Linked DNA regions of Homo sapiens: region 2 is linked to region 1. A link means that fine-mapping ties the variant in region 1 to the expression of a gene that starts in the linked region. Tissue or cell type: monocytes. Region 1 holds a variant in brackets; the other region holds the start of a gene. All regions are shown on one strand. Distances are between the middles of the regions.

What was found. PIP is the estimated chance that this variant, and not a neighbour inherited with it, causes the effect.
Region 2: it holds the start of SMIM1, and the variant in region 1 is fine-mapped to the expression of SMIM1 in monocytes (Fairfax 2014, PIP 0.95).

Annotation. Positions count from the first base shown.
Region 1 is chr1:3,800,438-3,808,693 of GRCh38, forward strand. No RefSeq gene overlaps it. Among named protein-coding and RNA genes, the nearest start is that of LRRC47, 8.1 kb to the left of the region's middle. The variant A/C (reference allele first, on the strand shown) is at 4,386.
Region 2 is chr1:3,768,426-3,776,425 of GRCh38, forward strand. SMIM1 (small integral membrane protein 1 (Vel blood group)) reads left to right here and starts at 4,324. Exons shown (of 4, transcript NM_001288583.2): 1 at 4,324-4,363; 2 at 4,638-4,756; 3 at 6,874-7,058; 4 at 7,370-7,531. The coding sequence starts at 6,949. The coding sequence ends at 7,496. It overlaps CCDC27 (coiled-coil domain containing 27), which reads left to right. Exons shown (of 12, transcript NM_152492.3): 11 at 1,358-1,462; 12 at 2,976-3,220. The coding sequence ends at 3,098. RefSeq lists enhancers at 2,707-3,385, 4,672-5,187, 5,188-5,703, 6,443-6,587, 6,736-7,251 and 1 more, a silencer at 3,731-4,610 and cis regulatory regions at 6,531-6,547, 6,539.

The DNA of each region.
Region 1 (8,256 bases):
CGCCTGGGTCTCTGTGCCATCTCGACCTAACGCAGGTCGCTCTGTGGTGCCGCCTGGGTCTCTGTGCCATCTGGACCTAACACAGGTCACTCTGTGGTGCCGCCTGGGTCTCTGTGCCATCTGGACCTAACGCAGGTCACTCTGTGGTGCTGCCTGGGTCTCTGTGCCATCTGGACCTAACGCAGGTCACTCCATGGTGCTGTCTGGGTCTGGGACAGGACCTCAGGACTTTGCTCCAATCTCCCCTCTGTTTGGAGGGATCTGTTTGGAGGGCTGTGTCTACATTGGATCTATTTGTGTTTGTGTCTCTGTTTAGTGTTGCACCCCCCTCTGAGGGTGCTTAGGCACAGTCTGCATCCCAATGGCCAAGACTAGGTCCATCTGGTTGTCAGAAAGTAGCAAGATAGGCTGCCCCTCTCCTCACTAGGTGTATTTGTACATTTTCACACTGCTGATAAAAACATACCTGAGACTAAGAAGAAAAAGAGGTTTAATTGGGCTTACAGTTCCACATGGCTGGGGAGGCCTCAGAATCATGACGGGAGGTGAAAGGCACTTCTTACAAGGCGGTGGCAAGAGAAAATGAAGAAGATGCAAAAGCAGAAACCCCTGATAAAACCATCAGATCTCATGAGACTTATTCACTACCTTGAGAACGGTGTGGGGGAAACTGCCCCCATGATTCAAATTACCTCCCACCTTCTCCCTCCCACAACCTGTGGGAATTATGGGAGTACAATTCAAGATGAGATTTGTGCTGTTATGACCGTCCTTGAAGATTTCCCTGAACCAGTTAACATTGTCTCTGATTCAGCGTAGGTACTACATGTTGCTCACAACAATTGAAACTGCCTTAATCCAATTTCTGCCTGATGATGACCTATTCTTTCTTTTTCAAAGGTTTCAGTCTGTGCCCAGAGCAAGGTCTTCTCCTTTCTACATTACTCACATTTGGGCCCACACACCCCTCCCCGGACCCCTCTCGCAGCAAATGCTAGAGCTGATACATTAGTTACTCCCGTTTTTACAGATGCAGGTGGAGGAGTAGAGTCTTCTCTAAACTCCCCCGGGGAAAGGGAGACTCCCTTTCCCGGTCTGCTAAGTAGCAGGTGTTTTTCCTTGACACTGACGCTACCACTAGACCACGGTCTGCTTGGCAACGGGCATCTTCCCAGACGCTGGTGTTACCGCTAGACCAAGGAGCCCTCTGGTGGCCCTGTCCGGGCATAACAGAAGGCTCGCACTTGTCTTCTGGTCACTTCTCACCATGTCCCCTCAGCTCCCATCTCTATATGGCCTGCTTTTTCCTAGGTTATGATTATAGAGCGAGGATTATTATAATATTGGAATAAAGAGTAATTGCTACAAACTAATGATTAATGATATTCATATATAATCATGTCTATGATCTAGATCTAGCATAACTCTTGTTGTTTTATATATTTTATTATACTGGAACAGCTCGTGCCCTCAGTCTCTTGCCTCGGCACCTGGGTGGCTTGCTGCCCACATCTCCCCCCTTTATATTAACTAGGATCACCATCGCCATCATTGCTTGTCATTGACTTCGGACTTGTTTTCGGACTCCTTGGAGGCATCTGCAGACTAAACGGAGACAACATAAGCATACCAATACTAATAATGCCAGTGACAACAATGATCCTCCAAGGGGTTTGATCCATTTAAAGGGATTAAGATCAGATAATTCTTTAGTTATTCCTTCAAAAATGTCTGAGCCAGGAACAGTGGATGAATGAGCTTGTGAAGCCTCAAAAATTTGCTCTTTAAGTTTTGAAATATCCAAGGTTAAGTTATCATCCCAGGCTTTTAAATGTCTTGAGACCTTTTCCCAGCTATGTTGACCTTTATTATAAGCATAAGGCATTATGCAATAGTCAGAAGTATTCCAATCACACTGTAATTGCATAAGGTGTTCCAAATTCATAACTCTGTCTCTGAGCCACATTACACTTTGACGGAGATCATTAATTTGATTGGCTAATTTTTTATCAATTTGAGCCTGAGAATTCCAAAGTCCGGAGGAGTTTTTCTGCCGTGCTTTAACATATTGAGCGGTTTGAACATAATTGTAGATGGCAACTCCAGCAGCTGCTGCTGCTGCAGTAACTGCAATTAGACCTGCAATGACGGCAATAAGAGTAAAAATAAATCTCTTTGTTCTTTTGAGGATAACTTTAAGAACTTCATTGACTATGTGAATAGAGGGGGAAGACTCCCAAGGACGATGTAGAGAAACTGGTATCCATACCTCCTCCCTAGCCCGTACCAAGAGAATACTTGTAGTGGGAATGAAAGTAGCATCAATGCATGTGAACAGCTGACAGTTATCACATTCTACAGTTTGTGTACTGGGAATGATAATTATATTTCCAACCAACAGCATGTAAGGGGGTTTGACACAGCTCCTGATGGGTATCACCTGTTCAGATATCAAGGTGATGTTGAATGTGTGTGTTTTGGTATTAGTGTGAAGGAGTTGATAGGTAGTGTTCCGTATCCTTATTCCTGTCATAGCTGCAGCAATTTCCATAATTCAGGATGTTCTGGGGTAACAATGGGATGAATCATTTTTGGTGTAGGGGGAACAATGCCTGCGTCCATCCATTTAAATGGGTAAGGAGACACCCATTGTCTCAACCTGTATGACTGCCATCCATCCTCTATATGATCTTTTTTCTTTTCTTTCTTTTTTTTTTTGAGATGGAGTCTTGCTTTGTTGCCCAGGCTGGAGTGCAGTGGCGCGATCTTGGCTCACTGCAAGCTCTGCCTCCTGGGTTTACGCCATTCTCCTACCTCAGCCTCCCGAGTAGCTGGGACTACAGGCGCCTGCCACCACGCCCAGCTAATTTTTTGTTTTTTAGTAGAGACGGGTTTTCACTGTGTTAGCCAGGATGATCTTGATCTCCTGACCTTGTGATCCACCCGCCTCGGCCTCCCAAAGTGCTGGGATTACAGGCATGAGCCACTGTGCCCGGCCCATCCTCTATATAATCTAACAAATAGTTAAACTCCGAGCATTTTGTATTTTGGGTGGAGCAATTTCGCCAATAATGCCCTTTTGGAGCCCAGTCAATAACAACACCCGTAGGTAGGGTTTGGAACAGTATGGCCTTCGGAGTATTAGAATCATTTCATAAGATTGAATTTAGTTAAAAAAAGAAAAAAGGCCCCTTTGTAGGTTTCTTGGAGCAGGCTGGCAGTCCTTTTGTTTCTCAGAGTGCCTCATCCTTGGAGTTATAATGCAATTTCAGTCGCTGGGAGGGAACCCACGCGGGTTGTTGTCCTTTTCCTGGGGAAACACAAGCGAAAGCCCTAGCCCAAGTTATGACTCTGTCTAATTCCCATTTGTTAGTTTTTGCGTCCTTTCACCATACCCGCATTCGTTTTTGTGGATCAAATTTATTTCCAGTGACATGTGGTTCTGTGGCTGTAAAGTTTGGTTTCTTGCTGGGTGTAAGAAAGCTCGTGTAAAAAGAGGCAGGTTTAACTGAGCATGAGGTGTGGTGCCATCCCCCTTTGTTTTATGTCCTGCTTTCGAAGTTGACCTTTCAGTGTTTTATTGGCTCGTTCCACCGAGGCCTGTCCTCGAGAGTTACAGGGGATGCTGGTTGTGTGAGCAATTGCCCACGTCTCAGTGAACTTTTTAAAAGCAGCACTAGTGTAGCTGGGGCTGTTATCAGTTTTCAGTTTCTCGGGACAGCCCATAACGGAGAAACAGGAACGCATATGTCGTTTACCATGAGCTGTACTTTCCCCTGCGTGACAAGTGGCCCAGATAAAATGAGAAAAAGTGTCGATAGTTACATGTATAAAAGAAAGCTTGCCAAAAGCAGGATAATGAGTCACGTCCATTTGCCAGAGAGCATTCTGTGAAAGTCCTCTAGGGTTAACTCCTGAGGAAAGTGGCTGTAAGATTAACACTTGGCAAGTAGGACGGTGACGAACAATGGTTTTAGCTTGTTTCCATGTAAGGGGAACTTTTTCCGGAGTCCTGCAGCATTGACAGGTGTTAAAGCATGAAAATTTTCTGCATCTGTAAAAACGGGAGGAACTAATGTATGAGCTCTGGCATTTGCTGCCGAGAGGGGTCTGGGGAGGGGTGTGTGGGCCCGAATGTGAGCAATGTAGAAAGGAGAAGACCTTGCTCTGGGCACAGACTGAAACCTTTGAAAAAGAAAGAATAGGTTATCATCGGGCAGAAATTGGATTAAGGCAGTTTCAATGTTGCGAGCAACATGTACTACATACGCTGAGTCAGAGACAATGTTAACTGGTTCAGGGAAATCTTCAAAGACGGTCATAACAGCAGGCAGTTCAGCTCGTTGTGCTGAAATAGCCCCTGTGTTAAGAACACGTTCTCTGGG[A/C]CCTGTATATGCTGCTCGGCCATTACAGGAAGCATCAGTAAAAACAGTGACAGCTTCAGCTAATGGGGTGTTTCTAGTAATGTTAGGTAAAATCCAAGAAGTGAGTTTAAGGAACTGAAATAATTTTACATTAGGATAGTGATTGTCAATTATACCCGAGAAACCTGCCAAGTGTACTTGCCAAGTGATACAGGTTGCAAAAGCCTGTTGAACTTCTAATCGGGTGAGGGGAACAATGATTTTTTTGGGCTTAATAACCTGACTTCTAGCTGCATTGCTAAATAGTGATAAGGAGAAGAAGTCTGGATTTTTTTTTTGTGGAGGGGGCGCAGTAACCAAACCGGCTGCTGCAACTGTTTGTTGTCCTGCAGAAAAACAAGATATTAACACGGAGCGTGAAGGTGCCGCGAGATCAGCTGCCTGCTGAGTAAGATCAGCAGGCTGTGGCTGATTTTGTGCCGCAGGGACGGCAGGTATTGGAGGTTGTAAAATTACAGGAAATTGCCAGGCGTTGGGATCCCCATATTTTCTTGCCTGTGCTATAGCCCTCATAAGAGGAGTGTCATTTTGAGGAATCTATGTAACTTGTTGCTTGTGAGCAGCAAGGGTAGACGAGATTACCTGCCGAGCACGTCCTTCATGGGCCTGAAATTCAGGCTGCTGTGGCAACTGCGGACCAGGCTTCAAAGGAGTCTGTGACTCCAGGGGAGTCGGATTAGTAGGAAAGGAACCAGGTTTCAAGGGAGCCTGTGACTCTAACCGAGTCTGATTAGGAGGAAAGGAAACAGGCATGAGAAAACCAGGCTATGGAGGGATAGGGTTGAGGGCCTCATTACCGGGCGGAACAGGCAGAAGGTTGAGACCCCTACAGCAGGGCTGAACAGGGACAGGGTTGAGATAAAACAGGAGGGTTTTTATAAAGCTTAAATAAGCTGAGTACTTAGTACTGGCTTGTCCCATGGTGTCCCCGGAATACTCTGAGTGCTCTAGCTTACCACCAAGCTTACTGACCACAATCCTCAGGAATCTCTGGTCAAAATCCTCTGCTGAATCCCACACTCAGGGTGCAACTTCACACAGCGAGAGAGAGCCCCACGTTGGAGCGCCGGATGTAGGGACCAGCCCCACAGTGTTGGTGCGTTCTGCTCCCCATGTGCGGAGATGAGAGATTGTAGAAATAAAGACACAAGACAAAGAGATAAAAAGAAAAGACAGCTGGGCCTGGGGGACCACCACCACCAAGACGCGGAGACCGGTAGTGGCCCCGAATGCCTGGCTGCACTGTTATTTATTGGATACAAACCAAAAGGGACAGGGTAAAGAGTGTGAGTCATCTCCAATGATAGGTAAGGTCATGTGGGTCACATGTCCACTGGACAGGGGGCCCTTTCCTGCCTGGCAGCCGAGGCAGAGAGAGAGGGGGAGAGAGAGAGAGAGACAGCTTACGCCATTATTTCTGCTTATCATAGACTTTTAGTACTTTCACTAATTTGCTACTGTTATCTAAAAGGCAAAGCCAGGTGTGCAGGATGGAACATGAAGGCGGACTAGGAGCGTGACCACTGAAGCACAGCATCACAGGGAGACGGTTAGGCCTCCGGATAACTGCGGGCGAGCCTAACTGATGTCAGGCCCTCCACAAGAGGTGGAGGAGCAGAGTCTTCTCTAAACTCCCCCAGGGAAAGGGAGACTCCTAAGTAGCAGGTGTTTTTCCTTGACACTGATGCTACTGCTAGACCACGGTCTGCCTGGCAACGGGCATCTTCCCAGACGCTGGTGTTACCGCTAGACCAAGGAGCCCTCTGGTGACCCTGTCTGGGCATAACAGAAGGCTCGCACTATCGTCTTCTGGTCACTTCTCACCATGTCCCCTCAGCCCCCATCTCTGTATGGCCTGGTTTTTCCTAGGTTATGATTATAGAGCAAGGATTATTATAATATTGGAATAAAGAGCAATTGCTACAAACTAATGATTAATGATATTCATATATAATCATGTCTGTGATCTAGATCTAGTATAACTCTTGTTGTTTTATATATTTTATTATACTGGAATAGCTCGTGCCCTTGGTCTCTTGTCTCGGCACCTGGATGGCTTGCTGCCCACAGATGTCTGGGTCATTTCCAATTCAGAAAAGACTGTGCTATGGGAAAATGTGTTTCTAAAAATTATGGAATTGTTTCATTTACAAAATAACATCTGATAGTTCAAGATTTCTTGCTTCCTGGGTTTTCACTAAAATTTAAGGTTACTAAGAATAGGAATTCTAATTAATATATAATTCTGTAAATTGTGTTATTGAGAGAAAAAATAATTTTATGTAATTTGAAAGTTGTTTAAAAGTTATTTATGAAGAAAGATAAAAAGAAACTAATAGGTAGGGGAGAGAGTAATAAAACAAGTTTTGGCTATGAAGATGTATTTTTGGTAAGGATATGAAGAAAATAAAATAATTTTATATAAGAAAGGATATTATGTGGTAAATTCTTATCCTAAAGTAAAATGACTAGAAAAGAGAGAAGTATCAGACACGTCAGAAAGTCCAAACATGTTGTAGATGGTCAGTGTAGGTTGTGATAAGGTTTGTAAAGGGCAATTACCTGAGACTGGGTAATTTATTTTTATTTATTTATTTATTTATTTATTTATTTTTTGAGACAGAGTCTCGCTCTGTCGCCCAGGCTGGAGTGCAGTGGCGCGATCTCGGCTCACTGCAAGCTCCACCTCCTGGGTTCATGCCATTCTCCTGCCTCAGCCTCCTGAGTAGCTGGGACTACAGGTGCCTGCCACCATGCCCGGATAATTTTTTTTTTTTTTTTTGTATTTTTAGTAGAAATCGGGTTTCACCGTGTTAGCCAGGATGGTCTCGATCTCCTGACCTTGTGATCAGCCCGCCTCAGCCTCCCAAAGTGCTGGGATTACAGGTGTGAGCCACTGTGCCTGGCTGAGACTGGGTAATTTATAAAGAGGTTTGATTGGCTCAACGTTCTACAGGCTGTGGAGGAAGTATGGCCATGAGCATCTTCTTGGGGAGGCATCAGGGAGCTTTTACTCAGGGCGGAGGCGAAGCAGGAGCTAGAGAGTGAGGGGGAGGTGCCACACACTTTCAAACAAGCAGATAACTCTCTGTTATCAGGACAGGACCAAGCGGATGGTGCTAACCTCTTCATGAGAAATCCGCCCCCATGATCCAGTCACCTACTACCAGGCCCCTCCTCCAACACTGAGGATTACATTTCATTATGAGATGTGGGCAGGGACACAGATCCAAACCATATCAAACTCACCACTGCACTCCAGCCTGGGTGGCAGAGCCCAGCAGACTCCCAGAGTTGAGGAGACAGCTGAGAAGCCAAGGTCAGGGTGGCTAGGGTCAGGGGACAGGGCACCCTTAGCTTGAGCACCTCCACTGAGCACCAGCCACTCTCTTCTTATGGGGCAACTCCCAGCACTGGACACTTTTTTTTTTTTGAGATGGAGTCTCACTCTGTCATCCAGGCTGGAGTGTAGTGGCGCAATCCTGGCTCGTTGCAACCTCCACCTCCTGGGTTCAAGCAATTCTCCTGCCTCAGCCTCCAACTAGCTGGGATTACTGACACCTGCCACCACACCTGACTGATTTTTGTATTTTTACTAGAGACAGGGGTTCACCATGTTGCCTAGGCTGGTCTCGAACTCCTGACCGCAAGTAATCTGCCTGCCTTGGCCTCCCAAAGTGCTGGGATTACAGGTGTGAGCCACCATGCCTGGCCACTGGATGCATTTTAGACAGGACCACTCAGGGGGTGTAGTAGCTCACACCTGTAATCCCAGCACTTTGGGAGGCTGAGGTGGGAGGATCAGTTGAGCTCAGGAGTTCCAGACCAGCCT
Region 2 (8,000 bases), 32 kb before region 1:
CAAAGGTCAAGGTCATGTATGGAGGCTTTTGAAGTCAGGTTCCCACCAGAAATGCCAACTGCAACTCAACTGCGTCCTCTTTCCTGCTTGAGTCCACCTCCTTCCGGCTGGGTCAGACTGAGGCACCCACCCCTGGTATCCCTTGATAAAACAGTTTGGGATCCAGCCGTAGTCCTGGTGAAAGCGTTAGACCAGAGGCGGTCTAGGTGTGTCCATTTGTGCGCCAGCCTGCACTGACCTGGTGGAGCCTGGAAAGCTGAGCTGAGAAATATTGTGAAGCTAAGTCCGGGTGAGCAGGAACTAGCGCCAAGCCTGATGGTGAGGCCCCACGGGTGTGGGGAAGTGAGGCTGGACACCCCGGGTAGCTGCCAACCTCTACCCTGGGGAGGGACCCCCAGTACAGAGGCCCAGCCCCTTGTGACCTCACGACCTCCAGCACCTGGCACGGTGTTTGTACAAAGTTGGGCGCTCAATAAATACTGGAAAGAAGGAAAGGATTCCACTCCTCACACAGGCCAGGGGCCCATGACATTCCTGCTGTCACTTAAACCTGTCCGAGCGGCAGTGTGGACATGCTTCCACTCGGAGGCAAGGCTGAGCCTCTCGGGCCCAGCTCCTGTGGGGCACCTCTGCGTCGTCAGGGTTTCTGGACGAGGAACTCGTGCTGAGCGTGCCGCATAACTCAAGGGGTTCCTGTCTGAGGCTCCTGGGGTGCAGATTGGAGGGGTTTCCTCTGCAGCTTCCTGGGAGGCACGATTAGCTACCTCTGGGGAGGCGGCTGCGGGTGTACAGGCAGACAAGGATCTTCATGGCAGCAGAAGACGAGAACGCCTTCTGGGTCTGTGCGCGGGGGCCAGGTTCAACGCTGCTGTCCATGGCACAGACACCTCCTAGTCAGCATGGAAAGGAGGAAGCACCAGCAGCGCACTGTTAAATGCCTAAAGTGAGAGTGTCCCCAAGGGCCAGGAAGTCCGCTCACTGCAGCTCCCCTGGGCAGTGGAGGATGGTCCAGGGGTTACGTGCGGCTTCTGTACTATTTTGGTTTGTTGGTTTAAAAATATATATATATGTGTGTGTAGGTTTTACTTTCCAATTAGAAAAGCCCACCTGGTGTAGGAGAGTCTTTGGGCTTTGGGGCTGGGCCGCACAGGGTCAGGGGTTGGATCCGGCACCTCCTAGCTCTCAGACAATCCACATTGACTTCTCTGACACCTGTTTCCAGTTTCTAAAGCCATGAAAAGTGAGGGTGAGCTGTTCCTTCCTGGTACATAAAAAATAAGGTGGTGGGGGGTGCAGCCCACTGGCCAGGTGCCTTCTTGGGTAAAGGCGAATGATAGTGTTGTCCCTTTGCTCACAGCTCGAGAGGTTAAGGAATAAGATCATCCAGGCCACCTTTAGCATCTCCGGGACCAAGTCCTTGGCCAACGAGATCTCTGACAATGACATCCTGGAAGCCCTGCAGGTATACCCCTAAGCTCAGCTGCCTCTATCCGGGCCCCAGACCCCCAGGCCAGAGCTGTGGTAGGGGGTTGTGGGGGGCCTAGATTCCAGGGACTCTGTTCTCATCCTACCTGTGTCACCTATTCACTTGGACCCCAGGACCCTCCTTTCTCTCAGCTCAGGCAGAGGGGATCAAATCATCCTAAGGCAGGTGGGGGCATGGCACGGGAGTCTTAGCTACTCTCAGCAAAACGGGGGACGGGCATCAGAGACCAGCAGTAACTGCCACAACCCATCCTGAGCGCTGTGGAGAGGGGACAAGCCGCTCAGGGCACGAAGATTCTCCCACAGCAGGAGCCCAGCCCCGGCTTTGTCCAGCTTGGTCCCCTCCGCTGGTATCACCACCCACTGATCCAGGGCCCTGGTGCAGACCCCTCCCACCCCGGCCACAGCCTCCTGGGCTCCTTCCTGACCAGGGGTCCCCAAGCAAGGGCCTCGGAGAAGTAGAGGGGTGTAGGAGAATTCAGGCCTTGGGGTCACTGGGCATGAGGGGGTCACCACCCACCAGCTGGGGGCCACACACTCACTTTTCTGAGCCATAGATGCCTCCCTCTGTGATGGACAGCGCATGCTCACCTGCAAGGTGTCGTAAGACTCAGAGCTCTGGGAGCCGGGCACCGGCTATGGCTCTGTGTGGGGCTGTGTACTACGAAGGGGTCACCTCTCACCAGGAGCTGCTTTTGTTCCCAAGACCCACACTTCACCCTCTGGGGCTGCCCTTGAACCCCAGTGTGTGCCCCTGACCTTCCAGCACCCACGTTCCTGGGGCCTGGTTCCCTTCCTCTGCAGAGTGGGGGGCCCTGGACAGTGCCTCTCCTGCAGAGCTGTAATGTGGAGAGAGGTCTCTGCGGCCTTGGTACTGTTGTCTGGGGGAGGGGAGGAGGAAGGGGAGAGAAAGAGGAAGAGAAGAGGGAAGACAGAGGATGGAGGGAGTTATTCCCACCGCACAGTAGCCAGGGAAGAGCACCTTTGCTTGCTTGCCATAGCCTGACATGAACCAGCAACGGCCCAGAGAGGAGAATGGAAGAGAGGTGGGGACAACATTCCCTCTGTACAGGACAGAAGGGACTTGAGGGACAGATGTGACGACCTCAAAGATCTCTAGGAGTCTGGGGCTCCTCACAACTCTAAGAGGGCTGAAGAGGGGGCTTAGTGCAGGCTTCTGCGGGCTGGTGGTGTGCACCTGCCCCCGGCTCCGCATTCTGTGACTTCACTTCCGTGGCTGAAAATCAGCCACTGTGGGAATATTCCCACCACAGAAACTGGCAACGCCACAAAGCCGAGGGTTGTTTGTTTTTTCTCCCCCTGGAGAGCCGGTTGTAAGTATTCACCAGCACACCCCTGCTGCAGCAAGCCTCTCTGGAGGAGGAGGAGAGGGTGGCGTCCCGGGCAGCTGGCACGGACTGTGCAGACCGGCCTCAAGGCCAAGGTGAGGAACTGGGAAGGCCACCTCGACGGCTGTGTTTCTTGTGTAGAGAATTATCTCAGAGAGAAGCGACTACTATAATCAGCTGAAGCAGAAAGGCGTCAAAGTGCCCCCCCTGCAACAGTCAGAGGCCTTCCTGACCAGCAAATCCAAGAAGGGGACCTCCAAGTAGGCCCAGCCAGGCCCCCAAATACGGTCAGCCCAGCAGAGGCCGGGGCCCAGCTCCAGAACCACCCGCCCCCACCATGCGTCCTGCTCTCAGACTCAGAATTAAACCCCGGTGTTGGCACTGTCCCACCTTTTTCTTCTCTGGGATCCACGCGGGGGCCTACTCTCCTCTGCGACCTTGAGCTACAAGGACACTCCCCATTCCAAAGCTCACTCACAGGGAGTCAGCACACCAGCCTGTGCCCCTAGCTCCTAACAGGTCCCCTTGCGGCACCAGGCTGCCAGAGGCCTGAGCCGGGGTGTCCGCCCAGCACTCAGCACAGACCTCACGCCTGAGCAGAAGGGGTCTGTGACCTTCTGCCCTGGGGGCTCTCCTGGCTGGGGCACTCTCTTGCTGGAGGACCCCTCTGGAAGATGGTGAGGGTGGGGGGCTCTGTTCCCATCCCCCCGCTCCTGGAAGGAAAGCTTTACGCACGGGAACGGTGTCTGTGGTCCCCGACGCTTCCCCGGCGCCTCTGAGGCTCTGGGCGCCTGAACACCTTCGGAAGGGACTCTCCCCATTACCCTTCTCTGCTCCCCACCCACACCTGCTTCCCTTCCCGCCGCGAGCACCGAGCGTGGGCCACGTGCGGGCGCCACGCCCCTCAAGCCCCGGAGGAGGACGGTCCCCGCGGCCGGGTCCCCGAACCCAGCATTCAGGCCCAGACGCGCCCAGAGCCTCCCGCAGTCTCGTCGGCGCTGCAGCCGGGTCCCCGCGGGGCTGGGAGGCTCGTGGCGTCGGAGGGGCTCCAGCAGGGGTGAAGGAGGTCGGGGACCCTGGAGGCCCCAAGGGCGAGCCGTCTGGGGGCAGAAAGTGCAGCCCTCTGCAGACCCTGCCCGGCCCCCCTGCACCTCCTGGCCCCGGGGCTGGGCGGCCTAGAGCCCCGGCCCCTTCCGGACGAGGCGTCTCCCGGCCCCACTCGCCCCGCCCCCAGCCCCTTCTGGACCAGGCGCCTCCCCGCTGCGGCCCTAGCCCTTCCCCGCATGGCCCCGCCCCCCTCTCGCCCCGCCCCCTCTCGCCCCGCCCCCGGCCCCTTCTGGACCAGGCGCCTCCCCGCTACTGGCCCCAGACCTTCCCCGCATGGCCCCGCCCACCACTCTAGCCCCGCCACCTTCCGGACCAGACACCTCCCCGCTGCTGGCTCCAGCCCTTCCCCGCGTGGCCCCGCCCCCGCCCTCGCCCCCTGCCCAGGCCCGGCCCCTGCGGAGCCCAGAGACGCGGGGACACAGGTGAGGCGCGCGGGGTCCGGGCTGCGGCTTCCCGGTGCGGCCGCAGTGGGCAGGTGCGACTGTGCGCGGCCTCGCTGGCTGAGAACTGGCGGGGGTGGGGGCGTGCCCTGGACTGACCCCCACCGGCCTAACCCGCGGTGCGGGGCCAGGGCCGGAACTGCCCGCCCGGCTCCTTGCCCGGCTCCTTGTGGCTGCTGGGGACCCCCGACACCAGCCACTTTCCCTTCCCGGCCCTTAGCAAGATCGGCTTCTCCGGTCACCTTTATTTTTTTAGGCTCGAGGCGTCTGCCGCACCTCAGCCCACGACCTGCCCCGCTGGGAGGTGCGGGCCGCTGGCCAGGCCCTGACCGCAACCTGGCCCAGAGGCCCCAGCCCTCAGGCAAGGTTCTCCGGGTAAGTGTGGGGCCCTGAGGCGCTGTGGGGTGAAGAGGTCTATGGAGGGGCGCCTGTGTACCTAGGGCCTTCCTGCACTCACAAGCCCCCAGGAGGTGCCAGGATCCGGGAGCCTCCCAGGGCCTGGAGGGGAGTCCCTGATGGGTTCCTGCCGCCACACCTGTGACCATCACATGAGTGTGGAGAGACGTTTACTGAGCAAGTGAGGGAGGCCAGCCTCAAGGGCCGGCTCTGGTGGCTGTGCACCGGGGTGACTTGGGAACAACGTGTTCTACGTCAGCAAGACAGGAACCCATGATCCCAGAGTTGAACACACTGGGCTTGACCCCTCCCACCGGGAGGCCCATGGTGGGCTGCTGCTGTGGACTTGGAGCCTCAGCACTCCCGAGACTAATGCTGCGTGGATGTCGGGTTGCAAGGCGGCTGCTGCAGCTCCAGCAGCTCCAGCCATCACGTCGAGTCTGGAAGAAGGAGGTGGCTGCTGCTGCTTTCACAGAAGCAAACTCTCCCATCCCCTGCTGCACCCTGGCTCCTGGACCCCAGCTGGGTGACTTGGGAAAGCAGGGGTGGTGGTATTAAGCTTGTCTTACCCGGGTCATGGCTGTTACCTGGGGCTGGCACATTGCTGCTGGGACCAGAATGGGATTCTGCACACCAGGCAAGAGGGCGTGAACCTCGGGTAGGCAGCTGACCGCTCCACATGCTCCGGGAAAACAGCACCCATACTCCAGTAGAGGCTGGGCCTCTCCGGGCCTGAGTGCCAGGCTGCACTGAGCCAGGGCTCCCACCGAAGGCACACTTTATGGCTTTGAGACAGCTCCTTCTGCCTCTCTGGGCTTTGGGGGAAGGCAGACATGGAAGTGCCGGGAGTCTCAGAACTGCCTGGGGCCTGAGTTTCTGAGCTGGCTTCTTGCAGGGGAGTGGCTGCTGTGCCTTTAGGCCTCTGTGCCGATGACCTGGGAGGAAGGTCAGCCTTCCCCGCTGGAGGGGGCCCAGCAAAGCCTCAGCTCCTAGAAGTGAGGGGCCTGCCATTGCCTGCCCGAGGACCCCACTCCTGGGGGCCAGATGCTGAGAGGGGACACTGGGGGCCCAGCAGACCAGAGAGCTGACCCCAGTCCCACAGCCTGGGTGGGTTGTCAACTTCTCGTGCCCCCTCCAACTCCTCCACCCCCACACCCCCTTAGGTAAATAGGAGGTCGAAACAGAGGCCAGAGGGTAAAGGAGGTGCTTAGAGTCCGGGCTGGCTCAGGCCGGCCGGGCAGCTGTGCTAGTGCTTGGAGTTCCTGCTCAGTCCCCGTGGTCTCCTCGCCCCTCTGGGCACTTGGGCTGCCAGGCACCGAGCTGAGTGCCGAGATGCAAAGATGAGTCCCAGGTCTGCAGGAGTTGGAGCCCAGCAGGGAGCTGGCCTTGGGGCCGGGCCCCTCCTGCTCTGGGCAGCCACCCAGCCCTACGACCCTCCTGTCTCTGTAGGGCCTCCCCAAGGCCTTGAATCCACCCCGGCCCCGTGCTCAGTGCATCATGCCCCCCAAGCCCCAGCCCTCCTAGAGGTGTGGGTGGGGGAGGGGCTGCAACCCACACAGGCTGAGGACACAGCTGCTGCCACTGCCTGGGGCCAGCCACGCATCCTCCCCAGACAGGGACCGGTCTAGCTGTACCAGCCGCTGCCCCGGACCTGCTGCCCTGCCCCACCCCCCCCTCCCCTGGCCAGCCTCCCCAGAGGCCAGAAGGCGCCTTATCGGGCAGGGTTAAGGAGGGGGACAGTTATCAGGGGCTGCAGCCTAGATTGGGCCACAATGTCCTCGTCTCTTGAGGGTGGCAGGCTGTGCAGGCTCCCTGATAAAAGCACCGGGGAAGGGAGGCTCCTGGAGTGTGCTGGAAGGAAACACTGGCCTCCCACATGCCTGAGGTCAGGGCTTGGCCTGAGATGGAATTCTCGCTTGGTCCCATCCTCCCGGCCTGACCCTGGGCAAATGACTCTACCACTTTGTGTCTAGGTCACCTGTTAAGTCAGGCGACAGACCCGGTGAGGGAGTCAGCCCCCGACCCTTAGTGCCCCTCTCCTAACAGCAGCCTCAGAGGGGGTCTTGACTGCCGCCCTCCATCCGCTTGTTTTACAGTGAAGCCACAGCCTGGCCACCTGTCTTGATCTCCCCACCGAGAAGGCCCCGCCCCTCCCGCTGCAGCCCCACAGCATGCAGCCCCAGGAGAGCCACGTCCACTATAGTAGGTGGGAGGACGGCAGCAGGGACGGAGTCAGCCTAGGGGCTGTGTCCAGCACAGAAGAGGCCTCACGCTGCCGCAGGTGAGGGGCCTGAGGGCAGCCTGCCAGCCATAGCAGGCTGGTGTCTCCCTCCAGAGACGCCTGCCCTAACCCCTGCTACCGGCCCCATCACCCTCCACCCCATCCTGGCTGGGAGCCCACGGTCCAGCAGCTCAGCAAACCGCAGCCTTTGGCCTTCCCTCTGGTTGGCTGTGGGCGGGGAGAGCTTCCTCTTGACTCCAGCAGAGCGCCCAGGCCCCTCCCCCTGACCCAGACCAACGGCCACAGTCCACTTAGGGGGCCCCTCATGCGGCCCTGGCCTGGGGCTCACCTCCAGTTGGTTCTCACCCCAGGATCTCCCAGAGGCTGTGCACGGGCAAGCTGGGCATCGCCATGAAGGTGCTGGGCGGCGTGGCCCTCTTCTGGATCATCTTCATCCTGGGCTACCTCACAGGCTACTATGTGCACAAGTGCAAATAAATGCTGCCCCGCATGCACGCGGGGGGCTGGCCGCACACGTGAGAGCACAGGCCTGGAGACACACCCCTTGTACACATGGACCCCCCCACAGACACGGACCCTGCGGCACACACAGCGCACAGGGCACACGCGCTGGCAGCCAGGCACACGAAGACACCAGGTGCACAGCTGTCATCGGCCCCACACGGGGGCGCACAAACACCTGGCACACAGCCCTTCAAAGGACCTACAAACAGCTGGGCACACGTGGCTGGGAGGCCTGGGCCCAGCCTCAGCAGGAGCTGCAGGACACACCCAGGCTGGGCCCTGCGGCCTGGAGCCCCCAGCTACAGCCTCCTCTCTCCCAGGGCCCAGCCCCTTCCCTTGTGAAGGCCAGGATGAGGGGTTCCTTCAGCGGACAAACCGAGCCCACCTCCCTGGCAGCCCCCCGGGGTGGGATCCTCCCGGCTGCTTTCCTCCGTGGGAGCAGTGTGCAGAGCTGTGTGGCCCTGGGCAGGCCCCTGT